Linked DNA regions of Homo sapiens: regions 1, 2, 4, 5 and 6 are each reported to be linked to region 3. The links are microRNA targets in miRTarBase. Many come from high-throughput screens and were not tested one by one. Region 3 holds a microRNA gene; each other region holds the end of a gene's coding sequence. Distances are between the middles of the regions.
The links. The annotated mature microRNA hsa-miR-4282 reads UAAAAUUUGCAUCCAGGA and lies in region 3 at 3,509-3,526, opposite strand. An mRNA with a match to its seed (bases 2 to 7 or 8) in the 3' UTR can be bound and repressed. Matches are read on the target gene's strand: a 7mer-m8 pairs with bases 2 to 8, a 7mer-A1 pairs with bases 2 to 7 and ends in A, and an 8mer does both.

Region 1: the mRNA of CCDC171 is a reported target of hsa-miR-4282. The part of its 3' UTR that is shown has no 7-base or 8-base seed match.
Region 2: miRTarBase lists NUTF2 as a target of hsa-miR-4282. Seed matches in the 3' UTR shown: 7mer-m8 at 4,661-4,667.
Region 4: miRTarBase lists SCOC as a target of hsa-miR-4282. Seed matches in the 3' UTR shown: 7mer-A1 at 1,549-1,555, 7mer-m8 at 1,842-1,848 and 8mer at 4,353-4,360.
Region 5: the mRNA of TIMD4 is a reported target of hsa-miR-4282. The part of its 3' UTR that is shown has no 7-base or 8-base seed match.
Region 6: the mRNA of CENPQ is a reported target of hsa-miR-4282. Seed matches in the 3' UTR shown: 8mer at 1,202-1,209.

What each region holds. Positions count from the first base shown.
Region 1 is chr9:15,971,500-15,975,499 of GRCh38, reverse strand. CCDC171 (coiled-coil domain containing 171) reads right to left here. Exons shown (of 26, transcript NM_173550.4): 26 at 1,463-3,891. The coding sequence ends at 3,664. Among named protein-coding and RNA genes, the nearest start is that of LINC03041, 300 kb to the left of the region's middle.
Region 2 is chr16:67,870,506-67,875,969 of GRCh38, reverse strand. NUTF2 (nuclear transport factor 2) reads right to left here. Exons shown (of 5, transcript NM_005796.3): 5 at 3,403-5,170. The coding sequence ends at 5,057. EDC4 (enhancer of mRNA decapping 4) reads right to left here and starts at 2,918. Exons shown (of 29, transcript NM_014329.5): 1 at 2,627-2,918; 2 at 1-25. The coding sequence starts at 2,708. RefSeq lists an enhancer at 2,202-2,702 and a silencer at 2,596-2,805.
Region 3 is chr6:72,964,189-72,969,844 of GRCh38, forward strand. It overlaps MIR4282 (microRNA 4282), which reads right to left and starts at 3,565; the gene lies at 3,499-3,565. The region is part of intron 1 of KCNQ5 (potassium voltage-gated channel subfamily Q member 5); the gene reads left to right. The region is part of intron 3 of LOC105377855 (a long non-coding RNA gene); the gene reads right to left.
Region 4 is chr4:140,380,031-140,385,686 of GRCh38, forward strand. SCOC (short coiled-coil protein) reads left to right here. Exons shown (of 4, transcript NM_001153484.2): 4 at 932-5,656. The coding sequence ends at 1,074. Among named protein-coding and RNA genes, the nearest start is that of SCOC, 9.2 kb to the left of the region's middle.
Region 5 is chr5:156,915,003-156,920,658 of GRCh38, reverse strand. TIMD4 (T cell immunoglobulin and mucin domain containing 4) reads left to right here. Exons shown (of 9, transcript NM_138379.3): 8 at 156-195; 9 at 1,118-1,367. The coding sequence ends at 1,202. Among named protein-coding and RNA genes, the nearest start is that of TIMD4, 45 kb to the left of the region's middle.
Region 6 is chr6:49,491,622-49,497,020 of GRCh38, forward strand. It overlaps CENPQ (centromere protein Q), which reads left to right. Exons shown (of 9, transcript NM_018132.4): 9 at 523-1,486. The coding sequence ends at 654. Among named protein-coding and RNA genes, the nearest start is that of GLYATL3, 5.6 kb to the right of the region's middle.

The DNA.
Region 1 (4,000 bases), not on the chromosome of region 3:
AAATAGTGCTAGTATGTATGTATTTTGTTTTGTCTAATCAATTCATAAGAAATCTAGATTTCAAACCAAAACATACTTATCAAAATTATTCCTAGCTGGTCAGGACAATTAAAAAAAATTTTTTTTTCTCTTTAAAAAGTGTTAATTATTTCTGGAAGGCAGGACTAGCAGTGTTTCAAAATAATGTGGACTTTGGAATTGCAGCTCTAGGCTTACTAATTCCTAGGTTATGTATGATCTTTGGTAGCCAAAAGCTTAACATTTTTGATCCTCAGTTATTCATGTCTAAAATGGTGATGGAAACTCCTATGCTAGAGGTTTGTTGTGAGATCATTAGTTTTGCTATAATAACTGGCATAAAACAGTTGCTTGATAAATATTAATTATCTTCCACCTTTTATATTAGAAAACTTGTCTATAAAAAGTGCACAGTGAGGGCACAGTGGTACGCATCTGTAGTCCCTGGTACTCAGGAGGCTGAGGTGGGAGGATCACTTGAGCCCAGGAGTTCAAGACCGGCCTGGGCAACGTTGTGAGAGCCCATCTCTTAAAAAAAGAATAAGTGCACAGTGAAATAGGATCAACTTCCTATTGTTCAGTATGGTCTACAGAATGAATTCAGACAACTGGTAAATGAAGTAATATGAAAATACTAATAATCTCATTAAACATTCAATAATAGCATATGTCATAAATATGAAATAGGAAATAGAGTTGCTAAGTTTAATAAGAGTCAGATATTTGGTAAATTAAAGTGATCATTCTATTTAAAAGGTTATTTATTTATGTCATTAAGTTATCACTGAACTGGCAATTTTTGCAATCCTAAACCTCTTTGTTTTTATATTATGTCATTCCAAAATACATGTATTAAAAATGTCAGCAACTCCACAATATGTAAGTGTGACTCAGGTATCAGAACAATAACTTTAAGAATTAATAGTGATAGGTGATATAGGTGTGTTTCTAGATCACAGAAAGTTAGCAGGAAAATCCACATTCGGAAGTGTAAAGTAAAACTTCCTTTCCTCTACAAAAATATTTGAAGTCATTATCCTGAGATATGTCTACTCTATACATCATTCTTAAAAAGATAAAGAAGCTGATACAGCAACTGTCCTTGCCGACACAACAGAGATCTCAAATATGCAGCAATTGGTCACTAAGGTGCTTAGAAGCAGTCTAGAGTTTCTCAGATCTCCATAGGATATGTCATTAAATCTTCTCCTCCTGCTGGGTCTGACTTCTGGGAAAAAAGCATATGGTATAAATATTACTATATTTGGTAGTGAATACTAATGATCGCTCAGGAGGTTCATCCTTCAGTTTCTATGGCCTTTAGCATCTAGTTGCTTATAAATGTGACATGCTTTGATTTGATTTAATCATAATTTACGAATTTTGAATTTGTGGTTCAGAATTCACTGTACAAAATGTACCTGTAAAGTTAGATACCCATATATATGGAGACACATACACATTTATTTTTGGAGTTATCCCATTAACAGATTATAAAATCAAGGCAAGAAGACCAAGGCCTTTCCAAGGCACATTTTACAAAGCTGCTTGTTCCTCTAAAATCAGTAGGATCTGAAAACAGATTCAACACAAGCATACACACACACAAACACTTAGACATAGAGGTTACATATAGTAACCTTGTTCTTCTCTAGTGAGAATTGTAAGCTCAGTGATATCACATGAACTAAAAAATTGTCTATCAATTTCTGTATGAACAATATCCTAATCATTGTTTGGAACAGCAGAGAAAGGTGTTCTGAAATGTGCAGAAATTATATGATCTGTATAAAAACAATAAATAGCACTTCCATGTTATAATAAATTTGCAAGTTGAATTTCATACAGGTCATGTTACACAGGTCATATTAAAAATAATTCCAAGGAAAGAATTAAGAGAAATTTGGTTAAAGATATAATTTTACTCCATATAAGCTTTCTAAAGTTTTATATAAAGCTAATTATAGTGGTTCAGTATTACAAGAATAGGATGTGTTACACAGTACGACAGTAATACTGCTGTGTTCCCTCAGATGGCATAAATCACTTGGCTAATTTGGCTACTAATAAATAGTTAGTATAAAATCTTATTTACCAAGGCCAATAAAAAAATTCTCAGCAGTTGGGTAATTTGAATCAAATGTCACTGTAAAGATAAGACAAAAAAACTTCTGTAATACATACTGTTATACTCTAATGTATCCATAATGAAAGATTCCATAATGAAAAATAATATAAAAAATAGATTATGTATCAAGACTCTTTGTCAAAAGCTATAGTTCACATCAGAAGTTAATAGCACTAGGGAGTTAAATGATTAATACAAAAACAAATTCTTACTACAAATATTCTTTTGTTCTTCACTTACCATGATGCAAACTGCAAGGATTTAACCTTTAAGGGTTAAAGAGTTTAATCAATGTCAATGTCTGATCTTCTGAAGGCGATAAAGAACAGTCTGTCTAGCGATACCCAACAGAACATCACTTTGTCAAGCCACAAAGCACCCAAAAGCTTGTCAAGTAAGTTACCAGAAACCTCTTTGTGGTTAGAACTCAGCTCCTTCCTGCTTGACCTATTATTTGATATTTGACCACTTGGTTGCAAGACACTTGCTCTTTCTAGCTGAAATGTCACTGGGGCATCTTGTCAGCTCCCCGACATCTCGGCCTGACATACAATTTTACTTTTGTGTGCTACAAGGCAGAAAATGCAGGGCAATGGCCTTGTTTTAAATTCTGTCAGCATCAAAGATGGGTGTCACTCTTGGGTCCTACCAACAACAAAAACAAAAAAGGAGTCTATTTTGAAGGTCAAAACAGCCATTACCTTGAAGTTTTTCAGCTTATACTAAATATATTACCTGCTATCCTAGTGTGGGAACTGTCCTTATGAAGTGCCTAAACATACCACAGAAATCCTCCAGCACAATTGCTCTACTTTCTTATCAAATGCAGACTTGCTAAAAGAATGAGTTTTCAGTGCCTTCAGGGACCAGATTCAGCAGTTAACTTAACTTGTTCAAATGGGCAAGTGGTATCATGTAGCTTTACAAGGAGCAACCTGACCTTCTCACATTGACCAGGAGTGACATTATTGTGCAGGAGGAGAAGCAGTCACATCATTTCTGTTTTGCACAACCTGCTTAAAGTTTGCAACTAAATGCTTGTCTTCAGTTGAGCTGACAAGAGAGAAGAGGGGGCTCAGTGAACCATGGCCGGGCTGCCATGAAATGACAGGAATCATTGGCATACATTTCAAATAGCTCTCTCAATCCTATTAAAGCATTGCAGTCCTGCTTTAAAATAGACAAGTATGAAACAACTTTGATAGATAGAGACTAAAATGGCTTATTGATTTTTTTAAGTCTGAGGGAAATTACCCAAAATGTGTCATTCCTTAACATTTAAAAATATGTTACATAAAAATGAGCAACTGTGATAACAAATAAAACTTGGAGAGAAAAAAGTTGGCTATTTCCTTATTCAAGGAGACAGAGCTACCAGAATACATCAAGATAGCGCACAAATTTTTTAAATCCACTGCCACTTCTGCTGAAACAAAAGTCAACTGATAAGAAAATTCCCATTCAAAACAATTTTAATTGTACTGTTAACTCTTCCTCCATTTTTTAATTTCATGAAGTCATAATCCAATCTGAGTTGGTCTGTTGGCATTAGCAGACATAGTCACTGGAGAGGAGTGAGATGATGTCAGAGCATGGGGCACAGTATTTATAAATGTCTCCTTTAAGAAAGTGTAAGTAGTATCAAGTTCAGCTTTCAATGGTAAGAAATCCCCAATACCAGTTGTGTCAGCAGGAAGAGGAGCTCTTGAAGGAATGGAGAGATTTGAATGGTCTCGTGATCCTATCTGTGACATACAAAAGAAAAAAATAATAAACATAGAGTTGAAAACTCTCAAATAGAGCCTAAAACCATAAACAGGCAAGTAGACTAATAATCATTATAATATAAAAATG
Region 2 (5,464 bases), not on the chromosome of region 3:
GGCCGTGGGCTCTCTGCACTGGGGCCTGGGGACAAAGAGGGTCATTCTGATAAGGTTGCTCGACCTGCCCACAAGCCTCTCCCCTTTCAGAGTTTCCTTCAAGAACTATGAGGTGCTCTAGGAACACTCAACTGAGCAAAGCATGTCCATGAGGAGGAGGGCCCTGTGTTCATCTCTCGTTCCATAAACACTGATGTAGGCAGGACCAAGGATGAGCATGAGGCTCTTCTACCTGGGGGAGGGGTACAAGCCATCAAGGACCCTTTGAGGGCAGTGAATACTCAGGTCTGGGTCACTACAGAAGAACTCTGTGGACTGAGTGAGGGCATAGGAGGGGTCAGGAAAGACTTTATACAGCAGTTAGTGTGACCAGAACACACAAACACAGGAAGGATGGAGTGAAAACAAAGCTACAGAGGCATCAGGTATGATGCCGTGGCACTTAGACTCTCCCTGTGGGCCATGAGAACCATAAAGAGTTTCAAAAGGGAAGGTGATGTGGTCAGTTCTGGCCAGTGGGAAGATTACTCTAAGATAGCATGCAGAATGGTTGAGAATCTGGGTGAGAGAGATCAAGGCCTAGACCAATGTAGTGTCAGAGTTTGGAGAGAAGATGGGCTCCTAAGGCATGGAAGGGCACTGGTAAGATGTGGAAGGGGCTGCCCCACACAGAAATGGCTCAGAAGAAGCTATCTTGGGCAAGTAAACACAGAAGGCAGGGACATAAAGGAGCTGGACCAAAAGGAGAGAAACTATGGGGCAGCGTGTGGAGTAAGGAAAGACAGCATTTCAGTTCTTTGCAACTGGCTGGGTTTCAAACACTCTCATAGGCTCAGACACCATTTCCAAAATCCCCAGGTGGCAAGGAGCCTAGGGCTCCACATTCAGAACATAGCAAGTTTCCAGTCACAACAGTCTTTGAATTATTTTGGCGCGATCTCGGCTCATGGCAACCTCTACCCCCTGGGTTCAAGGGATTCTCCTGCATCAGCCTCCCAAGTAGCTGGGATTACAGCTCACCTAATTTTTATATTTTTAGTAGAGATAAGGTTTCACCATGTTAAGAAACCATGTTGGCCAGGCTGGTCTCGAACTCCTGGCCTCAAGCAATCCACCCACCTCGGCCTCCCAAAGTGCTGGGATTACAGGTGTGAGCCACCGCGCCCAGTCCTCAATAGTCTGAGTTCTGACCTGGTCGTCCAGTGAGAGGAGACAAGAAAGAGCTGCTTGGCAAACAAGGGAATCAAGTGCCAATCAATAAACAAAGTAGTTATAAGGAAAGCCTCCAGGCCACTTCATTCAGATCAGAGCCACTTTAGCTGCTCAGGGACAAGCTGACAACTCTCCCTTCCATGAAGGGTACCATGAGGACAACCAAAAAGCAGGCTCAGGCTGTACATGGTTGGCCATGCCAGGCTCTACCAAATCTCTGCGGAGTCTAGTCTACAAAGCAGCTGAGCAGCAGGAGAGGTCCACGCCCAACTCATGAGTAAAGAGGGCACACACTCCAGGCCTGGGACAAAGGGCCGAGTGGTCTCAGGCAGCAGATGGATTTTCTGAAAGTAGGGGTTAGTTGAATCCACCCCTAGTGAGCACCAGTGCCTGCTTCCAGAAGCAGCCAGTCTGGGCCTCCCAGCAGGTGTAAGAACAAGATCTGAGGAAACACAATTCTCCACTGTACGCCCACACCATCATCACCGGCCACTTCAGAGATCCCTAAACCTGTCAGTAAACTAGTGCCTGCACACGTGCTATTTCCTCTTCCTAATAGGTGGCTTCTCCATAGGTGCCTTGGGTGCCTTTCCTGACACCCAAGCCCCTGTTCACATTACAAGACCTAGCCCAGTCTCCCCTCTCAGACCTGCACTCTGCACTCACCAGCCTCCACCCTTCCCACGCCCATCACAGTATCGAGACACTCCTTTCTTTCAATGACAACAGTATATTACAACCCTGTTAGCTGTGTCTTGGGGAATCTTTGGGGGCAAGACTAGTTCTGAGGTATCATTAAGAGCCAAAGCGAAATATGAATGAATGGGAACCAATTAGGGCTTGCAGATATTTGTAGCATAATTCAGTCAGGGTGGTGCGGTCTGTGATTTGCCTTCATCCCAGAAAGAACACGGAATTGAGACTGGACACCTTCCTCCTGGAAATCAGTTTCAGAACGGGAGGCCTGGAGTCTTTATTCCAGAGAGAAGGGCAAGTTATGGAGGGGGACCGGCAGCTCTTCAGCATCGCGCTTAAGCCTGGGCCCAGAATTCCATATACGGAGCCCAGACCAGGCCTCTGAACCATGGAGAAAGGGAAGAGGAGCTAGGCCAGTCCCAGGAACACTAGAGACCTCGGGGCCAGGAAACCAGAGGGCCCCAGCGGATTCAGAGAAGGCGCCTCACCTTCAACCGAGACGCTGAAGGACAAGGCAGAACAGCCTGAGGACAAGATAGGGAGGGGTCACACCCAGGGGTCTGCGCCCTTCGAGGGGCACAGTCAATCCCCGTCCACCCTTACCCGCCGGGAGGATCCAGAGCTAGTCCTAAGGGAGCTGTGGGCCCCAATGGCGGTTCAGACGCGCGCCGCCCTTTTGTCAGCTCGCCTGGGGCCCACCCCCGCAACCCCCGCTCACCGCCCGCGGGCCGGTCCAGCTTGAGGATGTCCCGCAGGTGCTGCGTGGCGTCCTCGATGTCGATGCTCGCGCAGGAGGCCATGGGCCCTGCGGCGGGCGCCCCGCCCGCACCGCGTTCGTTCCGCCGCCGCCGCGCACCACGCACCCTCGCTCACCCGCCACGGGGCGAGACAGCGGGACGCCGGTCACTACACAGTCCACCCGCAGTTCGCAAACCGCCACCCGCGCAGCGTCGCTGAGCCCCGCCAACCCCACCAACCGCCTCCACTTCCGGCACCCACGAGCCGAGGCTCCCGGAACCTGCCAGGGCCGGAGAAGAAAGGTTCCGGGCTGGGGGCGGAAGCCTAAACCCCTCCCGCAGCCAGTCCCCCTCGGCGGCCCCGCCCCTGTGTCCGCGAGGTCAGGAAAGTCCCACGGGGCTGAAGTAAGCGTCCACGCACTGGGCCACCTAAAGCCCTACTCGACTCAGAAGGCGCCAGGTCCCTGCCCACTCCCAGAGCATGGACTCCGATGGTCCTGGGACGGGGTCAACTTAGCCGCCCATGCTAAGGTCCCTCAGACCCCCAGAATATGCTGAATTGGCAGGTGCCTCAGGTTCCCTTTGGGAATGGGTCGGAATAACTCAAGGCCTGAGGCTACCCTCGAGGTCATAAAACTCAGGAATTGCAAGAGCAGGGGAGATGATCCCACTACAATGACCAGTCATTGTTCCCTACTGTCCCCCAGCATCCCCTTGTCCCACCTGGCACCCTCAGGTTGGAAGAAAGAAACCACAGTTTACAAATTCTTCTTTATTGCAGACAGTTCAGGCACAGGTACATGGAAGAAGCCGTATTGCAGATTTTACACAAGGTGGTTTGAGGCAGCAGGCACCTACCTCTTCCCCACCCCCACTTCCCCAAATACACATCAGCCTAGAGATCATTCCCACTGAAATCTCCTGAGCATGCTGTCCTCTCAAACAGCACACCATCCAGCCCTGTGCCCAATGTCACCAGGCAATCTGTGGGATCTGAGGAGGTCCTTAGCCTCCACCCGTAGTGGGACAGGGGAAGGGTATCCTTTTACATGTCAGATTTAGCTGTGGTGTCCTTACCAATCCTAAAACCCTTAACAGGGCACTGACCCAAATCTTGGGTTTGGTTCTAGCCTATGGTTGCTACATTGCCACTAGGTTTATACCATCCAGAAGTCTGTGGGACAAGGGGCTAGATTTGTACTGGGCAAGGCCTTTGTCCCCAAAATGGAGAAGCAGAAACTGCCCTAATAGCTAAGACTCCCCGGAATTGGAAGATAGCATGAAGTCTGTATGCTGAGGAAGGAAGTGGAGAGAGGCCTGGCAATGTCCTGCAGCAGTCTGAGGGGTGAGGACTCCTAAAGCATGAGTCCCTCACAGACTGCCTCCTTCCACAGCTCCTGACCTATACTCCAACACAACTGGGCCTGGCTCTGTGGGCAGTGGAGGCTGGCTCTTCGGGTTACCTGCCTTTGGGTAAAGATATCCAAAGCAGATGGGACAGGAGCTGAGCTGCCCTCTGCCTGGCTTGGTGTATGTGGGGCATCCTGGATATGATCCTGATCCTTCTGGGGATAGAGCAGGCCCCTCCCTTGATACTGCTGACAACTCAGCCCGGAGGGCCTGAACGTGATGAGCCATTTTGCCAAGGCCTCTCCAGCTTCAACAGGATTCAGGATCATCTCTCCTGCTACTAGGGCCCTGAACCTACCCAGAGCAGAAGTCACAGGAGGTATCAGAACTGACTGCACAGGCTTCAGTGAGAGAAGCTTCAGGCCAGACCTGAGCTCTTCCTGCCTGCTTTCCAAAGACCAGTCGCCCTGTGGAGTGGGAGAGAACTGCCCTACACGGCTTCTGAGAGGCTAGCTGGGAGTGCTGCTTCAGCAGTTTCTCCCTGCAACAGGTATTCAGAGTTGGGGCAGAAGTGGGAGGGTGAAACATGAGAGAGACAACGGGTCTGGGTAGCTTCTGATGCCCAGCCAACTAGTAAACTAATTAAAACAATTTAAACTGTTAAGAAAATTTTTGTGGTTTTATTGTATCATGAGGCATTGAAACATCTGAACAAATCAATGTCTGGGCGGTGAGGCAGCTGCTTTCTCCTTCACTTCTTTGGGTTACTAGAGCAACTTGTCAGTAGATTAAAAAAAAAAAAAAAAAAAAAAGGACAACCTTTTGCATTACTTAAGTCTTTCCAAGGCATGCGCTGGTACAACACAAACTTCTCCCGTCAGATGCAACTAGTCTAGCATCCAAACATCATGCACAACACCTCAGTGGCAGCAGCGCACTGCGCCCACTCCCACCGCGGCCCTGCTCATTTGTGCATGATATTTGGAGCATCTGGAGGAGTGGGAATAGTATTGGGAAGAGGAGGGAGGAGGAAACAGCGTGAGTGCCTAGCTGAGAGGAGGTCAGCCAAAGTTGTGCAGGGCGAGCCTGAACATGTCATTGGTGCAAACCCAAGCATCGTTGATGTTCTTTAATAGGAACATCTGGTGGAACCCCATGATGGGGTCTTCATCCGCCTATGAGGAGAGAAAAGAGGATTCAGTAAGGGGATCAAGAAACAGGAAGGGAATTCAGTGGTAGGAGAAGAGGGCAAAAAAATGTTGACTTTAGGATCAGGCCCTACTGTCCTGAACTCAAATCCCAGTGTAGCCAAGGGGTACTTGTGAATGTGAATTGATGTAATGTATGAAACAATGCCCTGGGCACATGTAGGCCAACAATCAGCCACGCCTATGTGTGCTATGTGTGCTTAAACTGCACAATAATTCACCCTTAGCTACAGCAAAAGAGCAGAGGATGTACCTGCCTCC
Region 3 (5,656 bases):
GTAAACGTAATTGTGCCCTGATAGACTTTTAAATGTAAGTTATCAAACATTAAAAATGATGGCATCATTTAAGCTGCTCACTTTACTCCTCTGGATGACCCTTGCAATTTCATGTGGATTATTATAGAGATCTGGTCAAATGTTTTGTATTAATCAATAGTAGGAACAAGCCTCATTACTCTCAAGTTTCTAAGAATATTTGCAGCCTTCATAGGTTTTCATGTTGTAATTCTGTTTATTTGTTGATTCTAAAACAAACCACCTTTATTCATAGTGAAAATATGCCTTAGGGTACAGAAAGACATTATTTGTATATGAACTATAAATACCTTATTGATTTCCTATCCTTGGTGATTACAAGAAAATATTCATTTAAGATCATCTCTTATATAATTTAATAACAGCAATACCATTCTTTGCTTTTTAAATAAAAAAGTTATGATACTTAGAATTTTACATATTTTGAAATTTATATGTAATTTATACAGAGTTGATCCTCAATATTATTAGTGTATTCCATGTTTGCAAATTTGCTAACCCACTAAAAATGTATTTATGAGGTGAAATAACACCTATGGCACCTTTGTGGCCCTTTACAGAGCAACAAAAAAATTTTAGTCTCCCAACATTCGGGTTCTCAACTGAGTTTGAACAAACTGACACTCTTGTCTTCTTGTTTCAGCACTCACACTGTAAACATGTGTCCCTTGCAAGACCTATTTTCTGCTGTTTTTCACATTTTCGTGCTTTTTTTAAAAAAAAATTCTTTTTTGGTTTACGTTTTATTTATCTATTTGTTTATTTTGTAGAAATTGGGTCTCACTACGTTTCCTAGGCTGGTCTCAAACTCCTGGTCTCAAGTGATCCTCCCACCTCGGCCTCGAGTGCTGGGGTTACAGGCATGCTCAGCCTTTTGTGCTTTTTGTTGATAATTTCACCACTTAAAATTGGCCCCAAGAGTAGTGCTGAAGTGCTGTCTACTGTTCCAAAGCACAAGAAGGCTGTGATGAGCCTCTTGGAGAAAACACAGTTGGTTAGATAAGCTTCTTTCAGGCATGAGTTACAGTGCTCTTGGCTGTGAGTTCAACATTAGTGAATCAACAATATTAAATAACGTATCATTAAATGGAAGCACAGGTAAAACAATAATATGTATTGATAAGTTGATAAAACTGATGAGACCAGAGGCTCCTGGGGACTTAGTCCTGTATATCCCTACGAGCAATGGCTTGGTATTTACTAATTCAGTGTTTGTAGTGACTTTACAGAACATAACTGCCACTGCAAATAATGAGAAATGGCTGTATCTCCTTCTGTTTTTTTCTTTCCTAGAAGCCATTTTCTCAACATTTCATCGTGAACTATTATGGCCTCATCGGGAATGTGAAGTGTGTCATCTGAGCAGATGTTCTTATTGTTTTCCTATCCACTGACCCACAGCATCAAACAATTTAGAGGAGAAAAGTGGTCCTGTCATCTCCAGAGTTATTATCTATTTTATTTTTAAATCCAAACTTCCACAATCAAGTTGCTATTAAGGTTTATCTTATTAGCATTTAAATTTTTAGGAAATGCTCATTACTGGGTTAAGCACAAAAAAGTCACATTGCTTGAAAAGTGCTATTTGTAAAACAGAATGGCCCACTTTGTCTATGTGTAAGAGGATCTGCTGCACATTTTTACCTGGAATAATATTGTCATGGATTTGGACATATGTGGAAGTGCTATTTGTGTTTATGCAGATCAACCTCTTGGTTTTACAGAAGAGAGATGCCAGTCCCAGGGAGGTTAAAGTGCCTGCCCAAGGCCGTGTGCTGGAGCAGAAGGGGAGGTGCTGCCTCCAGTCGAGTTAGAGCACTTCCCACCATCCACCACCATCAGGTCCTGAAGCCAAATACAGAAGATAGCATATATTTTTATTACTTTGAGATATCATCCTGAGCCCAAGAAGAATTTCTTGTTGCTGTCTCATAAATATATTACTTTGTTATTTATTAGTTTAGGCAGTTTATGACTAGCAGTCAAATATTCCCAATAAGGTTCGAATCAAAAATGTTATTTTGTTTTTGTATTATAAAAAGAAAAGCAGGCTAGGTGTGGTGGCTCATGCCTGTAATCCCAGAACTTTGGGAGGCCAAGGCGGGCGGATCACCTGAAGTTAGGAGTTCGAAACTAGCCTGGCCAACATGGTGAAACCCTGTCTCTATTAAAAATAACAAAAAAAAAAAAAATAGTTGGGCATGGTGGCAGGCGCCTGTAATCCCAGCTACTCAGGAGGCTGAGGAAGGAGAATCTCTTGAACCCGGGAGGCAGAGGTTGCAGTGAGGCAAGATCACCACACTGCACTTCAGCCTCGGTGACAAGAGTGAAACTCCATCAAAGAAAGAAAGAAAGAAAAAGAGAGAGAGAAAAAAAAGAAAAGCATATTTTGAAAGGTATCCTCTTAAATTTGTGGTGACCCTCAAATATTTATGCTAAAACTTAACTTTCAGTATGGAAACAGAAACATGGGTTCAATTTAAAATCCATGACTGGATCATGAGCAGGGCAAAGTGAGAGGCATTGTGAGATAGGGCCAAATGCTTCGAGAATTTACTCCATACAGACTGTGTTCAGGAACCCAGCACTTCCTCTGTGACTCAATAACTGGCACATATGGTTGCCAGGGACTACCAACAGCTGATTTCAATAAAAGTTACCCAATTACACCTTGAAGACCTGTTGTTTCTGGAGGGAGTTGGAGGAATTAAGGAATGTGGACTGAGTTTTTAAAATATATCTTACAGAAGTCAGAGGAAGATATAGAAGGACAGGAATATACTCAAGATACAATATTTTCTTCTACTGTACTTTTTGTTACATGGAACAGAATTTTAGCATTGGATCCCTTCAGCTGTGACAAAGGAGAAGGTCCATGGTTATAAAGTTTTCCATTAGACTCTCCTCACACACAGGAAATGAACTTCCATAAATTTAATGATATGACTCTTAGGGTTTTATTTCTCCCATTTTATAACCCTCTTTAGGATAGAAACACATTTCTTGCACTATAAAAATTTTAGTCAGCAAATTTTTCATATTCTCACTGGGATTTCATAATCAGTCTGTACACCCTTCCTATGCAATAACTTTTGATCAGTATAGTGAAATATAATGGTATTATGTAATTTTAAGATGTACATCTTAAAGACAAAAAAATATCCCTTTATTTAATTCAAGATAAATAAATCAGTGAGGAAAATGTATGGTGAAAAGTTTGGGCATATATTAGTTATCTTTCAATATATTTTTCATTTTTTTCTTTTTATTTCCTTCAACCATATGATGCAATCAACGGATATTTGTTGGGTGCTTTGATGTTTTCAGATCTATGCTATGCACTACAAGGGTCTCAAAAAGGAATGAAGAACAAAGTCCCTGCTCTCAAGAATGTAGAGTTTTCCATACAAGGTTCTAAAAACCATTAAGGTCACTTAAGATATCAGTCAGAAGGTGAATAGGATGATGTTCCTGGATGCAAATTTTAGAAATGTGGCATACTAAAATCTTCCCCTGGAACTTCACCATTCACACCTAAGAAGTTAAAGATGTCTCAGTAGGTTCTCACTATGTTGTCTAGGCAGGTCTCAAACTTCTGGCCTCAAGAGATCCCTATACCTTGGCCTCCCAACGTGTGGAGGTTACAGGCATAAGCCACTGCACCTGACCCATTTTCTCCTTCTGAAAACTCTTTTGGATTTTAGGATACCATGTTCTTTGGATTCTTCCCTGCTTACTCTGACCTTCCTTCTTGACCCTCACTGTCTCTTCCTCATTCGCAGGGCCACTTCTCCTTAGCGACCCCAACACAACCAAGTCTCAAAATTGGACATCTGATATATGTGACAAAGATATGTTTTCATTTATATAAAATGTGAATAGAAACTTACATACACACACACAAACATACAAACACACACACACTCACAGTGTCTCAGAAGTTCTGCAACAAAGAAATACAGTTATTGTCATTGAACCCAGAACTCCCTAAGTGTTTTTGACAGAGCAACTTTTTCTTGAGACAGATCTATAAAAATCTCTTGGGATAGTGGTGTTCTATGGAAAACAGTCTGGGGAATACTGAATTAGAGAACCGTGTGAGACATTTTATTATTAACATGCAAACTCAAAGTACTGAAAGTGTAGAGAAGAGAAATATCATTATGATCTAGACGGGTGAAGAAAAGAATCTCAAAGGAGGATAGACTTTTAAAGAAATAAGTGAAAAAAAAAACAGAACATGTGATGAGGAGGGGGAAATTCAGATTATATCTCCCAAATTGATGATATTGATTATTTGAAAGAGGAAGGCAAAGGTGTAGACAATGATTATTAGGGACTTTGACTTTCTAAGTTATACATTTCTATATTGTTTATGTACTTGTTTTTACAAAGTTTTACAAATGTTTTATGAAGTGGCTTATTCTTATAATCCAGAGATATTCTCCTAAAACTAACTAAAGTTTATTTATCAGATTAACTAATGATGTGTATAGCTCTTACTTCCACAATTATCCATATATACATATATGCAATATTTACAAACATAGAGATGTACAAATATAATATCTCGGCCAAAAATAATTGAAGCATCAAAGTCAACCTACATTGTAATCTTGGGCAGCACCTGTTGTTTATTCATCTCTCAAGTGTGGCTGACTTCAGGGATGAGAATAAACAATGTGATCTCTTACTAAGCTTCCCTTTGGACTAGTCATCCAATTGGTATGTGATGACTTTATACCTGAAACTAAGGAGTTGAGGAATAAGCTGAAAATAGCCAACTTGGGTTTCCTAAGTACAGTTTGGCTTCTGTAAGAACTGTTTGGTTGCTCCTCAATTTCAGTGTATTCATTTTTTAAAGTATATTTATTTTAAAAGTGGCAAATTCAGGTATTACTTAATAATTAAGAAGCATTTATGCCCAAACACAATATATGTTTACAACCAAATTTGAAAGTAATTGAACTGATAACCCTTTAGACAAAGGAGATGTGTTATAATAAATATTATTGTCAGCTTTCCTTCATCTTAAGATTTTTTGAATCTTGGAAGAAGATATGCATGAACTTTGTGTTGGGTATTTATAAATGTATACACATATATACATAGCAAAATGTAAGCACAATACAGGTATAACATGTAAGGTTAGACCATGTAAACTTGCTGAAATTCAGTTGTTTCTGACCTACAATAATGGCAATTTCATATGGTTGAACCTAATGGTTTGTCTCAGTCATTAGTTAGTGGTGCCTCCTCCCCTAGGTAGAGTTTTCCAATTGTGTTGGGATGGTATTTTCACTCTTGTAACATTCCCAACTTGTATCAGAATTCCCTTCATCTTCCCTCCTCTACTTTTATATTATTCTATTCCGTCATTTTTCTCCTAGATACGACTGGACAGATTGTTTACTTATAGCAGTCCCTATATGTTAATCCATTTCTTTGGTCAACAAATTCTCAAACATCAGACCTTAAAGGTCAAAGAAAATCCCTGTGTTGAATTCAGTACCATGTATACAGAATTAGTCAACTATTGCGGCTCTTTCCCTATTATCTATCCCTATTTCTGTTACTGTTGATGTTGTCTGGGAGTATCTAAACACTCCCAGGAATT
Region 4 (5,656 bases), not on the chromosome of region 3:
ATTAATACACTGAAACATCTTTTGAGTTTTAATGAAATTAAGAGGTTGTGTTTTTGGTGCCACAGTGAGCAGATCATGTCACTCAGAACCTCCCACTGATTTACATTTTACAGAGTTAATAAAAGTCATCTGTGACTTCCCTATTAGCTTTCTTTTTCTTTTTCTTTTTTTTTTTTTTTTTTTTTGAGATGGAGTTCACTCTTGTTGCCCAGGTTGGAGTGCAATGGCGCAACCTCGGCTCCCTGCAACCTCTGCCTCCCAGGTTCAAGCGATTCTCCTGTCTCAGCCTCCCGAGTAGCTGGGATTACAGGCACCTGCTACCATGCCTAGCTAATTTTTTTGTATTTTTAGTAGAGATAGGGTTTCACTATGTTGGCCAGGCTGGTCTCAAACTCCTGACCTCATGATCCACCCGCCTCGGCCTCCCAAAGTGCTGGGATTACAGGTGCGAGCCACCGTGCCCAGCCGGAATTAACCTCTTATGTGATCATCAGGAACTGCATGTGTTCAATGTCTTGATAATGTTACAATACAAGATGATAAGTTGCTTGGAAACTGACTGCCTGTATTCAGTATATGAATTCAGTTGTGTTAACCTGATATATATCTTAAACATTTCTAGTAAAGATGTTATAGTTTTATGTTGATAAGACATGAACCAAAATTCACATTTTAAAAACAAAGTCTTTTTAAAAAATTACTCAACATTAATGCTATTTATGAAGAATAGCATTTAGTCTAATGTGAAATATCTTTTTAGGAATTTGTCTACTAATTTGTACTCAGTTTGTTTACCTTGCTGTCTCTAAAATCCGAATTCTTAAAATTTAAGGATTGTATTATTTCTTTTAAGAATGAATCCTAAGAATTTTGTAATATGGAATCATTGTCATTGTTTTATTGATAATGGGCATTTTTATTTTTTATATAGATCTCTCTGCAAGAGTAGATGCAGTTAAGGAAGAAAATCTGAAGCTAAAATCAGAAAACCAAGTTCTTGGACAATATATAGAAAATCTCATGTCAGCTTCTAGTGTTTTTCAAACAACTGACACAAAAAGCAAAAGAAAGTAAGGGATTGACACCCTTCTGTTTTATGGAATTGCTGCTGATCATTTTTTCTTTAAAACTTGGATAGATTCCAAAAGTTACAGTACCTTTGTGGCTTCATTGAATATTTATGAAGATAATGTCAGATGTAGACAAAAATAACACAATAACAGGAGACTTCCATAAGTTTGTGTATTATGTTAGTCTATGAAAACGTGCAAATGTATTGTAGAGACTTTATGATTAGAATTGCATATATTTATGAAACTTAAAGATGAATGTTTTATTGAATTTGTAGGTTTAGCACTGTCTTTTATTATAGGATTAGTAAGATATACAAGAAAATAACCACCGTGTTGTGAAAAAGTGACCAAAATCATGTACTAAATGCACAGCTTTATGTACCCTGTCCACCATCTTGTGCCTCTTCTCCATTTGCCTCTTCCTTCCTATTTCCCTTCCGCTAAGGAAAAAAATTGGTGTCACATTTGTAAAAGTAATTTTAATAGTTAATCATCTCTGAGAGTAACCTGTATTTTAATTGTTGAAACTTAACCAAAATAAGATACTGTCTCAGCTAGGGCTTGTCATTTGTGTATTTAGTGTTAAGATAGGAATGCTAGTGTCTCTTTAATTAATTGGAAATAGATGGAGGCTAAAAATGAAGGTTTTTCTTTGAAACTGAATTAACTTGGGAATATTTGTTGTTAAAAACTTCTTTTTGCCCAAAATAACTCATTTTGTATTATCTGAAAATATATAATTTCTGGTCATGTGTATGTTAAAATAGAAAATTTTGAGGAAAAATGGAAATAGGGTGGAAAAGTACTCGGTAAACAGTAGTAACCAAATATTTTCACTCCAGATTTGTGTTTTCTCTGGCACAGAGTAGATCTTTTGGGAAATATATATGAAAGTGGATTAAGTTTGACTACCCTTATGTTAGCCACATCTGGATGAGAACAGTTACAAAGAGTTTGGTCTCTAAGTTGATTTGTACCCAGTGGGTCAACTTCTGCAAAATTCCGTAATGGTGTATTAGTATTAGAATAGTGAATAAAATGGGAAAGTTATACATGTATACTTATTATCTTGCTCAGTATTTTATCTCACTTGTTCTAGAATTTTCTGTAAACCCTGCTACTGGGTTTGAAGAGTTTTAGTCATCCTTTAACAATTTTTAAAAATTTAGCTTCTAGATTCCATTTGGTAAGGAAATCAATATTGGAAGTATTGCTAAAATCTTATAATATGAAAAGAGATCCACTAATGTAGCTTAAGGTTATTAGATTTGGGCTTTTAATCATGGAATAATCTTATGTATTGGTGTAAGAGTTGATGAATGACTTTAGCTGTGTGAATATATAATAGTCAAACTGCAAACATTTTGCATCCCTTTTGTGACCTAATTTACAGACATTTAAATTGTGTTGCAGTTCTGCTTTGCCGTTTAATAAAAAGCTATTTCAGAGGTTGTGTGTGTTTTGATATAGTTGCCTAAGTAAATGGGGTATTTAGGTATAGTGGTGTATCCAGGGTTATTCAATGCCACAGAATAGTGTATCTTATTTAAGTACCCAGTTACTGATTATTTAGGGGAATAATATTTTTATTAATACAACTATAACTGGTTATCAATATAAATATCATAGGCTATTATACATTAATTTGGAAAACAAAAGCAAAGCACTCAAAGGATCCAGTATCTCCAGGGAAAAAGGAAGTTGTATTTTTTAGGGTAGGCTAAGCTACTTTAGCAAGAGACCCAGTGATAAAGAATATAAATATAGAAGTTTCTCTCCCAACCAGTGGTTCCAAGGTCAGCATTGCAGGCTAGCAGCCCTTGTTCAAACAGTTATTCAGGGACTTTGGCTGAGGATGGTGCTGCCATTTTAAATCATGGCTTTCAAGTCACTCTAGTTATTCTTCTAATTTGCAGAAAAAGAACATGGAAGTGTACATATGCAAGGTGTTATGGGCTGTGCCTGGAAATGGCTCATATATCTTCTCATATTCCAGTGGTGTGGAGACTTAGTTACATCTAGATACAAGAGGAGCTGAGAAATGTAGTCCCTGGCTGGGAAGCCATCTTCCAGCTATAAATACAAGATTTTGGTGGCTGCTAGCAGCCTCAGCCACAGCTCTTCTTGTGCTACCAAGTATCTTCCCTTACACAGAAAGTAATCCCTCTTCATCCAGCTAGTGATTCAGCTCACAATCTAGGATCTCTATTAAAGGTCCATCCCTTTACATGTGGCTTCTAATAGTCTGACAATCTCTAAACTGATAGGCAAATTATTTGCTCTCACCCTTGCTGCTGCCCATTTATAATGTAGTTGGGACAGGATGGCCAAATAAAAAGTCTCAATTTGGAAAATGGAATAAAGGGAAACGTAAAAATTGTGGAATGCTCCTGGGAGATGTATGAAGATTTTGTCCCTAGCAGTGGAGAAGTTCCTTGATTCAACTATGATTCTGATCTCTGGCAGGGGACTCCCTTGTTCATTGAACTCCATGGTTTCCCCTCTGGAAAGTTACTCCTTATCCATTTTCTTCCATGGCTACCTCAGAAGTAGAGATTGGGTGTTCACTCCATGGGAATTGTGAAGACAGTCCACTTCCTGCTGGTGTGAATTTGGTGCCCATCATTTTAAGGCCAAGCTCATGTTTCTGTGGAATACGATTCTCTCAAAAACTCAAGCCTTTTTATCAGTGTGCTTCTGATTGCATATGCCGAGGAACCACAACCAAGCTTTTGACCAAATTCTCAAAGTATGTATTATTTTTGCCTTTCTTTAATGGAGGCTATCTTGAGATCAACTAAAAATAAGATTACACTGGGAATGTTACATGCAGATCATCACTGCAAAGCTGGGTTCCTTTGGCTTAACGATTGGTAGAGAAGTCTTCATGGGCTTCCCCCCAATCTCCCCCACCTCAAAAATAATTTTGAACCTTTGCTGCTATTCAGACTTCAGAAACAATTGGCTTAATTTCATGAGGTTCCTTGTATCAAAACTTTGTCTATTCCCTTCTATCTTTGCTTGAAAATGTCAATTTTTTTGATACCTTGCTGAAAGCAAGGAATAGCCAATTCACTTAACATTCTGGCTTTTTCCAGCTAGAGCTATCAGATTAGTAGGTGTCAAAATATATCCCCACTGCTTGTCATGTTAATGGTAAGCTAATGCTATATACTTAGTTTTTGCTATGCAATACTTCAGGATAATTTCTTCATTAGAAATATAGGTGGTACACAGTGTGCACAGGGACTGTGTCCAGCTTCTGGAAAAGACTCGACCAAATTTTAGACAGGCACCTCTGAGCCCTGTTTTTGACTAGTCCAGTTTTAGCAAAAATCCTGCTAAATGAGTTTAGAGATAATCCCATCCTCAATAACTGATGATCGTCAACCTGGCCTGTCTTTGGCAAGAATCACCCTACTCTTGATGTCTCCAGTTAGTAGTTTTCCATCCACTGACCTCATCACTGCTCATTGACTATAAATCCTCAGTTGTATTTGCTGTGTTAGTTGAGCCCAGTTTCTTTCCCTTATTGGGTGATGGTCTTAACATATACAGTCCTGAGTAAAGTCTTCTTTACTGCTTTAACAAGTGTCAGAATGGTTTTTCCTTTAATACTTCCTAGTTTACATGCTGGTAGAATAATGTTTGGTAGGGAAAAATCAGCATACTCCTTGTTATGGACTGAATGTGTCCTCCCAAAATTCTTAGGTTGAAATCCTAACCCCAATGTGATGCTTTTAGGAGGTGGGGCTTTTGGGAGATAATTAGGTAATGAGGGTGAAACCCTCATGAATGGGATTGTGTCATTAAAAGAAACCCCAGAGAGCTCTCTTTCTGCCACATAGAAGACAGCAGTCTGCATCTTGGAAGAGGGCCCTCAACACTGATCTCTCAGACTTCCAGCTTCCAAAACTGAGAAATAAATTTGTTTATAAGCCACCCAGTCTATATTTTGTTATAGCATCCCAAATAGTTTAAGGCACCCATTTTCCCCACTGTTTCCCAATACAAATTTCCCCAGTATTGACACTGCCATTCTATGCAAAATGTGTCCTCTTTATAGTCCCTTTGGACTCACAGCAGGTTACTACACATCACAGATCCTCGTCTGAAACTTGTAGGGCCAGATGTCTTAGAATTTGGAGTTTTCCAGATTTTATAAAATATTATGACTCAGACACCAATATGGTTTGGGGCAACACCTATAATCAAGTATATTAACATTTCTGTAGCAAAATGAGTATTAAAGTAGGATAAAGAAAGACTACATATGTACATAAAACCTTGCCGGGGAAGTCAGGCTCAGCTACCAGGTGAGTTTTGTTGCCAAAATGCTAGGAAAATCTTTAACTTTTCAGAGATTTTTGGTCATGGAATTGTAGCAACAAAACCTTTTGTAGAAGAGTAACCAAAATCATGTATGCATTTAGTTCCAACTAGTTAATGTCACATCTCTATTCCTGTCACCCTTCCCTGTGATCTAGTCCCTTTTGTAAGAGAAATATGGTAGTTGAATTATAAAATCTAAAATTAATTTTGTGGTCCAAAGAAAAGCAAAATAGATCTTTAGAATGTAAAGC
Region 5 (5,656 bases), not on the chromosome of region 3:
GGGAAAGGGAATGGCTTTTTCTGCCAAAGCCAGCCACTGGTTCTCACCTTTGGCCCATATCTGCTCTTTGCGGGGCAGCACTGGAATTCCCCCAGCATTTTGCATGTTCTATGCACCGCAGCCACTCTGCTCACACTGTGGCCTTGTCTTTTCAGGGAAACTCATGGAAACCTATTGTTCGCAGAAACACACAAGGTAATCTATCTTGCATGAATGGGTGTTGTAATGATTGTACAAGCTGTTACAAATGATTAGCTACTACTCAGTGGTTTAATGACTTGAGCTTGTGTTACGATTACACATAGAGTTGGAAAGATGTGACATTAGAAGTGAAAAAGTTGTGCAGATTTAGCTCACATTAACCTGTGTCTTGGTTAACACTCTGAGCAAAATGCCAGTACCAAGGCAGGTGGGATTAATAGAAGTATAGCACGCAAAAGAAAGAAGGTGATATGGCACTTTACTCTGAAATTTTTTGTTCACCTATGGGTAAGTTAGTTTAAGAGGCCATTGTTAAACTGGAGTTTATTGAGGAGCGTTGGCAATATGGAAAATGAAAAAAGCATGTAGAATATTATTCCTGGGAGTTGGTTCCTCTGCCCAGTTAGACCATGGAAGCAGCTTGTTTTGGGGCCTTTTTAAAAATAGTATTTGAAGATTCTCTAGTAAGGGATTTTAGCTATTTGCCCTATTCTATAGCTTTTGGAAAAGAAATTTTTAAAAAAGGCATAAATTATTAATGAAGTCCTTGCCTAATTAATTGCATTCACTAATTAGTTGCATTAATACCACAATATGTATTAGCAAGAAGGAAAATTGACACCCAGCGAGGTGACCTTTCAAGGTCACACTTAGAGACCTTTTGGTAAATAAACGTATTGAAATCATGATTTTATATTTTGCTAAGAATCTTTTTTATCTCATTATAATGGATTGGCAGAAACTCTTTTTCCCCTGCAGCCTCAGTTTTCCCATCTGTAAAATGTGGAGCTTAGACTAAATGAACTGTGAGCCCTTTGAACTTTAAGGGTAATTGCACTGTAACTTAGCAGCATCTGTTTTGTTTTGTTTTCTAGTCTTGTGTTTCCCATTATGAGCCCCTCTTTTCTGTTTACAGGCTAGACTACATTGGAGATAGTAAAAATGTCCTCAATGACGTGCAGCATGGAAGGGAAGACGAAGACGGCCTTTTTACCCTCTAACAACGCAGTAGCATGTTAGATTGAGGATGGGGGCATGACACTCCAGTGTCAAAATAAGTCTTAGTAGATTTCCTTGTTTCATAAAAAAGACTCACTTATTCCATGGATGTCATTGATCCAGGCTTGCTTTAGTTTCATGAATGAAGGGTACTTTAGAGACCACAACTTCTCTGTCCATGCTCTAATCATCTCTGTAGAATCACCGCTAAGTGATCTTTCACAGTACACTTGAACACTTTCAGTGACAGTGAACTCCTTACCACACGCAAGGGAGTCCATTCAATCTCAGAGCAGTTCTGAGATTAAGAAATATTTATAGCAAAATCTGTCTCCGGATGACATCTGCCCATAGGTCATAGTTGAGCTCCTTATGCCTATCAGAACATCTCCTTTATTAACTGCCGGATCAGTGTTGTGTGAACTAACAGGACAAAAAATCTATAGGCTCCATCAGTCAATAAGACTGATTTTTTTTTTTCTCTCTTAAAGGTAATGTCAAGAGAGTAGAAATCCAAAAGATGGTTACCTTTGGAGAAACATGTGCTTATTCCATTAATGTTGCTATTGCTCTAAGCATGCTGGGAAGTACTGGAGAGCTGTTAACTCTTCAGGTATTAGAAGGAGAATCTCATGTTTCTCCAAATTTCCTTGCTTCTGGGATACAATTTCTGGTTCTTTTGTTACCCTAATTGCCTTCATCTCGTATGGATTCGTATCTCTCCTTTTATGCCCAGCTTTCAGAGTTCATTGTCTCACTGCAGGTATGATATGAGCAGCACAGAGCCTATGGTTCATTAACAATGCAGGAAATGACATGGAATCACACCGTAACTGTGACTCACTTCTTTATTTTCTTTCTTGAGACGGAGTCTTGCTCTGTTGCCCAGGCTGGAGTGCAATGGACAATCTCTGCTCACTGCAACCTCCGCCTCCCGGGTTCAAGCGATTCTCCTGCCTAAGCCTCCTGATTGAGCAGCTGGGCTTACAGGTGCATGCCACCATGACCACCAATTTTTGTATTTTTAGTAGAGATGGGGTTTCACTGTATTGGCCAGGTGGGTCTCTAGCTCCTGACCTCAGGTAATCTGCCTGCCTCAGCCTCCCCGAGTGCTGGGATTACAGGCTTGGGCCACTGCACTTGGCCAACATTGACTCACTTCTAAAACTCCTAAATTTTCTATTATTTTCTTTTCACATTTGAGTGTCTTTAGAGGTGACCATAGTGTCACATCCTAGTTCTTGCTTGGGGAATTTAATTTTGGAAACAGGGAAGAGTCCGTGGGAGTAAAATGTGGTGAATGACAGGAATATTCAACCAGGGGCAGTGCGTGGATGTGAAAGCAAGGCAATCCAAATAAGTTTCTCTAAATATAATCTTGGAAATGTGCTCCTCAGCAACAACAGGTTTATTTTAAAACTTTAATAACTGCTAACACGAGGAGCCATGGGAGAGAGATTAAAGCAAACAGTTGTTGAATGAATGTATAAAAAACATGTGTGCCTGAGTGAGAGGGGCTTCTGGCTGGGTAGAAATGTGGAAAGTAAACCAGATCTGAAAGACATTTCTGTGAAGGACTTCCCAGCATGTTTACAGCAATAGCAACATTAATGGAATAAGTACGTGGTTCTCTAAATGTAGCCATCTTTGGATTTCAACTCTCTTGACATTACATTTAAGAGAGAAAAAAGTCAGTCTAATTACTTGACTGGTGAAGCCTATAGATTTTTTTGTCCTATTAGTTCACACAACACTGATCCAACAGTTAGTAAAAATCCCCCTCACCTGGGTACTTGGAAAAACTGGCCCAAGGCAGCCTGACTTCTGACTTGTTCAGTTGCAGTTGGGCAGAATGATTGGCACCAATGATGAAAACAATTAGCAGCAGATTGGCAGCTGTTTCTTTTCTTTTTCTCTTCTCTTTTCTTTTCTCGTCTTTTCGAGACGGAGTTTTGCTGTTGTTGCCCAGGCTGGAGTGCAATTGCATGATCTTGGCTAACTGCAACCTCTGCCTGGTGGGTTCAAACGATTCTCCTGCCTCAGCCTCCCAAGCAGCTGGGATTACAGGCGCCCGCCACCACACCTGGCTAATTTTTTATATTTTTAGTAGAGATGGGTTTTGCCATGTTGGCCAGACTGGTCTCGAGCTCCTGACCTTAGGTGATCTGCCTGCCTTGGCCTCCCAAAGTTCTGGGATTACAGGCGTGAGCCACTGTGCCTGGCCCTTTTTTTAAAAAAAAAATTTTTTTTTTTTTTTGGTCAACTTGGCTTTGATGTCAGCTTAAGATACTTAAAGTGACTTTGTCTAGTGTGCTAAACTCAAACATTTATTTAGAAACGTTGGGGAAGTGGGTCTAGAGCCAGGTTCAGGGCCTGAATTTCCCCATCTAGAAAATGGAGTGGGGCCAGATGGCTTTGTGTATGTAGTCAGGTTATAGTATCTTGTGAGGTAATGATACACCCAACCCTAACTTAGCTCATGCTCCCTATCCACCTTCCAAAACCACCGCCATTATCAATGTCACTACCAGCTTGGGTCTGACTAGAAAAAGAAGACGACAGACACTTCCTAAACAGAACATTTAAACTCAATGAATATTACTTTTCTGTTTTGCAAAGGGGTATTTTCAATCGATTCCCAAATGTATTTCTGAAACTCCTTGTACCGACTAAGAAACACTAACATGAGCAATCATAGTATTTTAGAGCTCGTAATGGCCTCCAGGAGCCTCTGTCCTAGTAGTTCTCAATGTTAGCTGAATAATCAACTGGGGAGCTTTTTAAATGCCAATTCCTGAGTCCTACCCTTTAAGAGATTCTTTCTGTAATTGGTCCAGGGTATGACTTGGGCATCTGAATTTTTGAAAAATGTCCCAAAGTGGTTCTAATATGGAACCAAGTTCTGAAAAATGCTGGTCTAGCCCGGTGGCTCTCAAACTATGCACTTCAGACCAGCAGCCTCCGTGTCACTGGTACTTGATAGAAATGCAGATTCATGTCCTTCACCCCATACCTCCAGAATCAGAAACTCTGGGGGTAGAGTCTAGCAAACTGTGTTTTAACAGACCCTCCAGATGATTCTGATGTGCGTTAGAGTTTGAGAAATGTTGCACTGTAGTAATTCCTAACAGATAAAGTGTTCAAGAAAACAATCTCCCTTTACCAGGGCTGTGTGGTGGTGGGCTTGGCCAGACAGAGGGTCAGGAGCTTCCAGTACCAGGGGCAAAGGTCCTGCTGCTTCATCTCCTTTAAGCTGATAGCACTTTCTGGCTGGATTCCTGCAGTATCTTCCTAATTATAATCTCTGACTTTACTCCTTTTCCTGTCTGTTCTCCATGCTGTGGCAGAGATACCCTCTTTCAATACAGGTATGGGTCTCCTGTCTCCTGTCTTCCAGCCCTTTTCATCCTTGGCCCCTAGACCTACCTAGAAGCAGCACACTTAGCTCTGCCTGGGGCAGAGGTGGCAAACTCTGATGAATTTAGAGGCCAGGCAGCTGATACAGTTGAGGGAGTCAAAGGGAGATGACATGGCCCATGATAAATCGGAGTGTATGTCCACTTAAGGGCATTAAAATTTAAAATTAGTTAAAATGATTTCCTGGGCAAGCAAAACATGGCTGTGGGCTAAAACAAGGTAGCCAGTTTGAGACTGGGGATAAAGGGTGGATTTTAGTAAAAGATGAATTAAAATAAATATATAATTCTTATACTGAGACTCCTTGATCAGAGGAGGCTGTGGATGTAGTTGCTCCTCTCATTCCCTCTTTGTGTAATCAGGATGAATTGTTAGCATCTATAAATAACTTTTTGGTATCTATTGTATGTGGGGCCCAGGAGAGAGAATTGCTTCTTTTAAGGAGCTTCACTTCTGAATGAGACAAAACACACATGGGAAATGCAATAGAATAGGCCGGGTGCAGTGGCTCACACCTGTAATCCCAGCACTTTGGGAGGCCGAGGTGGCACATCACTTGAGGCCAGGAGTTTGAGACCAGCCTGGCCAACATGGCGAAACCCTGTCTCTACCCAAAATACAAAAATTAGCTAAGCTTGGTGGCAGGTGCCTGTAATTCCAGCTACTCGGGAGGCTGAGGCAGGAAAATCGGTTGAACCTGGGAGGAGGAGGTTGCAGTGAGCCGAGATCGCACCATTGCACTCCAGCCTGGGAAACGGATTAAGACTGTGTCTGTCTCAAAAAACAAACAAACAAACAAAAAGGTAATGCAATCGAATGGAATCAATGTTGTTTTTCCATTTCCATAAGGAAGGAATGTGATGCAGTATGTGCTTCTTACAGCTAATGATTATATGGTGGATCCACAATCAAACCTCACAATTTAAAGCAGGAGTTTCCAATCTTTTGGCTTCCCTGGGCCACACTGGAAGTAAAGGAATTATCTTGGGCCACACATAAAATACGCGAACACTAATTATAACTAATAAGCTAAAAAAAT
Region 6 (5,399 bases), 23 Mb from region 3:
AATTTTCCTATTGGCTGGGCACAGTGGCTCACACCTGTAATCCCAGCACTTTGGGAGGCCAAGGCAGGCGGATTGCCTGAGGTCAGGAGTTCGAGAACAGCCTGACCAACATGGAGAAACCCCATCTCTACTAAAAATACAAAATTAGCCAGGTGTGGTGGCACATGCCTGTAATCCCAGCTATTCGGGAGGCTGAGGCAGGAGAATTGCTTGAACCTGGGAGCTGGAGGTTGCAGTGAGCCAGGACTGCGCCATTGTACTCCAGCCTGGGCAAGAAGAGCAAAACTCCACCTCAAAAAAACAAAAACAAACAAACAAACAAATCCTATCATTTACCAGTGGTGAAAGGAGCAGGATGGGGAGAGGGAGAGATAGATTTGAAAGAAGAATGGCGATTCGTTGACAATTATTGAAGTTGGATGATAGATACTTAAGGTTTATTTTACTGTTCTCTCTAACATACATTTGAGATTTCTCATAATAAAATGTTAACAACTACATTTAATACTATCTTTCCCACAGAAAGAAATTTTGGCGCTAATTCCAAACCAGAATGCTCTTCTAAAGGACTTGGATATTCTTCATAATTCATCACAGATGAAGAGCATGTCAACCTTCATTGAAGAAGCCTATAAGAAACTGGATGCATCTTAAAGAGTGTTTTTTTTTTAGATTGTTCCATATTAATTTAATGTTCGTGAATTTGTAAAACTGTTAACCTATGATTATATGTACAGAGGCTAAGGCTTCTGCAGGATTTATTATCTCCTGATATGCACTTTAAAATTAGTCTTTGTAGTTCTATCATTAGCATCTAATGTAGTTCTGAAGACTGTTTTTAGCAGTTGCCAAATCTAGGAAACTAACATTTATATTGCTGTATCTATAAGTATTTGCCTAAAACCATAAAATAGGAATTGCCTTAAGGATCTAGTAGTTTATAATGCCTGAATGGAACTCATTTATTGGTTAACAGCTCATATCAGGAGCTGTGATAAGTAAGTGTTTACATACACTGTCTAGTGCATAAAAACCTTAGTGTTTGCTATCATTCATTCTGTAGCCAATGGCTTACAGTTTCTGTCTGGTCATCTGGAACTTGAAAAATCCTCAAATGCCTTCACTCTTTTACCTAACTCCCTAGTCTTTTTGGGAAGTAGTTAAGATATGCCTGCTATCTTTAACTTTGGAGGTAGTATCAAAATTTTACTTCTTTGGTTGTTTAGTGAATTAATGTTGAATATTTTCTACTGTCATCAAAACATATTCCCAAAAAGTATTAAAAAGGAACCTTAGCACATTTATTTTATTAAAACAAGAAAACCCAAAATATATAAACCTTTTCTTATTATGATAATAAGCTTATATATGTGAATAAGTTATAACCTAGTGTATAAAAAATTATTTCTAACAAACTACAGTATACTGTCTTGGGTTTTTTTTTTTTTTTTTAGTCTGTAAAATAAAATGACTGCAATTACTTTTTTATGTGACCTATAATATCAGTTAATTTGGGAGATGCCATAATTCTGTTAACACCCTTCAGGCAGAGACCACTGGCAACAAACCTGTAGTTAAACAAGTTGGGTTTTCAGTGTAGTGAGGAGATCACACATGAGGACCCTGGGGCAGCTCAAGAAAAGGGTCACAAGCAATATCCTCATAGGAATAATGGTAAAGAAGGCCTATTAATAGATTTTGGAGGAAAATAAAATCTCAAAGAAAAACCTGGCAAAGTGACTAAAAGTAAAGATTATTACAAAATGTCTTAAAAACCCTTCACTTGGAAACTTAAAGCTTCATGTTTTTAGAATGAGTAGTAGAGCCCTAACTCAGTGATTTTTAACACTAATGTTATAGTAGCTTTTGGTGGTGGGGGAGGAATTATGTATGCCATTTCTCTCAGGGCATCTGTTTAACAGATAACTGATAGTTAACTGGGATTTTAACTTACCATTGTTGCTGAGTGATACAGTTCTTCACCCTGTGTGAACTGGCCATACTACTCTTGTAGCTTTGAAGAGTTTATAATCTAACTTTAAGAGATCTACAATATCTTCTGGTAGGTAGCATCCAATCCAAAACATACACAGTATTTTCTTTAAATAAGACTGCATTTTGGTGTACTCTTTGGAAAGAATTTAAGAATTAATTACAGATCTGTTATGGTTTGCCTAGGGTTTATTTGGCCCCACCAACCTCATGTTGAAATTTGATCCCCAATATTGGAAGCGGGGCCTGGTGGGAGTTGTTTAGATCATGGCGTGGATCGCTCATGAATGGCGTGGTGCCATAGATGCTGGTGCCATGCTTCTTGTACAGCCTGCAGAAACATGAGCCAAATCTCTTCATTAATAAATTACCCAGCCTTAAATATTCCTTTATAGCAACACTAAACATACTAAGAAAATTGGTATTCAGGAGTGAGGCATTGCTCTAAAGATGCCTGAAAATGTGGGAGTAGCTTTTGAACTGGGTAATAGGCAGAGGTTGGAAGAGTTTGGAGGGTTCAGGAGAAAACAGGGAAGACAAGGGAAAGTGTAGAACTTCTTAGAGATTGGTTAAGTAGTTGTGTACCAAAATGCTTATAGAAAAAGAGACAGCAAAGGTCATACTGAGGAAGCCTTAGATGGAAATGATGAACTTATAAGTTACTGAAGCAAAAGTCACACTTGTTACACCGTAGCAAAGAACTTGTCTGCATTGTGTCCATGCTCTAGGGCTTTATGGAAGGCTTCATTTAAGAGATGGCCTAGGGTATCTGGGAAAAGAAATTTCTAACCAGCAAAGTGCTCAGGCTGCTGCATGGTTACTTCTAACTGCTTACAGTAGAGACCAGAGGAAAATTGGAAAATGTGCAGCCTTGCCTTGTGTTAGAGAAGGAAAGAAGAGTGTTTTTAGGAGAGGAATCTAAGAGTATGACCAAGCAGCAGCAATAGTTTGCTAAAGAGATGAGCATGACTAAAAAGGGCCAGGTGCTAATAAGACTATGGAAAAAATGTCTCAAAGCTATTTCAGAAATCTTTGCCACCCCTCCCATCACAGATTAAGAAGTTTAGAATGAAAGAATGGCTTTTTGATGGGGCAGGTGATACTGCTCCCCACACCCCAGCGGCACCAGCTCAAAGGGCCTCAGGCTGCTGCTCTGGAAGGTGTACCCAGTAAGCCTTGGAGACTTCCATGTGGTGTTAAGTCTGCAAGCATGCAGAATGCAAGAGTAGTGGAGACTTGGCAGCTTCCACTTACATTTGAGAGGATGTATTAGAAAGCCTGGGTGCCCAGAAAGAAGGCTGCCACAGGGTCTGAGAGCCTCTACTAGAGAAGTGCCTAGTGGAGCAGATGGAGCAGGGGCACCACTCTCCAACCTCAGAATGGTAGAGCCACCAACAGCTTACAATCTCAGCCTGGAAGAGCTGCAGGTATTGGATTCCAACCCACGAGAGCAGCTACGTGGGCTGCACCCAGCAAAGCCATGGGGATGGGGATGCCTGAGGCTCTGGAACCCACCCCTTGAACCAGTGTTCTTAGGATGCGGGACATGGAGTCAAAGCAGATTATTTTGGAGCTTTAATATTTAATATCTGTCCTGATAGGTTTGGGACTCACATGAGGCCTATTACCCCTTTCTTCTGGCCTATTCCTCCCTTTTGGAATGGGAATGTCTGCACCACCACTGTATCTTGGAAGTAAATAACTTCTTTTTTTATTTTACAGGTTCACAGTTGTAAGGAACTTGCCTTGAGTCTCAAATGAGACTTTAGACTTTTGAGTTGATGCTGGAACAAGTTAAGACTTTGGGGGATGGAATAATTGTATTTTGCAATGCAAGAAAGACATGAGATTTGTTTTTCATGCCACCAAATCTTATGTTGAAATTTGATGCCCAATATTGGAGGTGGGGCCAGATGGGAGAAATTTGGGAACAGATCCCCCATGAATGGCTTGGTGACATTCTCCCAGGAGTAAATAAGTTCTCTTGGTTCCCATGAGAACTGCTTGTTAAAAAGCCTAGCATCTCCCCATCTCTTTCTTGTTTTCTCTCTCACCACATGATCTGCAAATGCCAGCTCCCCTTCACATTCCACCATGAGTAGAAGCAGCCTGAGTCCCTGGCCAGAAGCAGATGCTGGCACCGTGCTTTTTGTGCAGCCTACAGAACGATGAGCCAAATAAATCTCTTTTGTTTATAAAATACCCAGCCTCAGGTATTCCTTTATGGCAACACTAAAGAGACCCAAGACAAGATCCAAATAAAATTAAACTGCCGGGCGCAGTGGCTCACACCTGTAATCTCAGCACTTTGGGAGGCTGAGGCGGGCAGATCACCTGAGGTCAGGAGTTCGAGACCAGCCTGGCCAACATGGTGAAACCCCGTCTCTACTAAAAATACCAAAATTAGCCGGGCGCAGTGGCGGGCTCCTCTAATCAGGAGGCTGAGGCAGGAGACTCGCGTGAACCCGGGAGGCAGAGATTGCAGTTAGCCCAGATAGTGACACTACACTCCAGCCTAGGTGACAGAGTGAGACTCCATCTCAAAAAAATAAAAATAAAGAAATAAATAAACTTTGACTATACATGGTCCCAATAATTCAAATAACAGTCCTCCTCTGTAGTGACCTCAGCCATCTAAGTTCTCCCATGCACAGCCCATGCCAACTATGATACATCTCTTCTCTAGTGACTGATAAATGCCAATGTCAGAAACTTAAACAATAACAAAAAAAATACACTTTTGAGATAGAGGATATATTGTATTAAAATGTAGCATATGATAAAGATGGCATTTCAAATGAAATACAGAAAAATATTTATTAATAAATGGTCTTCATAAAACTGGCTAACTACATAATGGAGGGTGAGAGGATGTTTAATATTCCTACTTTATGCCTAAGTACATTCCCACTAAATAAAGTTAAATATAAAAATAGAAGCTAAAAAGAAAGAAATGAACAGTGGATGTCAGGGTAGCAAATGCCCTATTATGCATATAAGCAAAAGTAAAATCATGAAAGATTATTACATAATATTTTGAACTTTTTGAAATAAGATTTTTAAAAATACAAAACCGGCCGGGCATGGCAGTTCATGCCTGTAATCCCAGCACTTTGGGAGGCCGAGGTGGGTGGATCACCTGAGGTCAGGAGTTCGAGACCAGCCTGGCCAACATGGTGAAACCCTGTCTCTACTAAAAATACAAAAATTAGCCGGGCATGATGGTGCATGCCTGTAATCCCAGCTACTCAGGAGGCTGGGGCAGGAGAATCGCTTGACCCTGGGAGGCAGAGGTTGTAGTGAGATGAGATCGTGCCACTGCACTCCAGCTTGGGCAACAGAGTGAGACTGTCTCAAAAAATAAAAAATAAAAATAAAACAAAATCAAGCCAAAGACACATCACAAA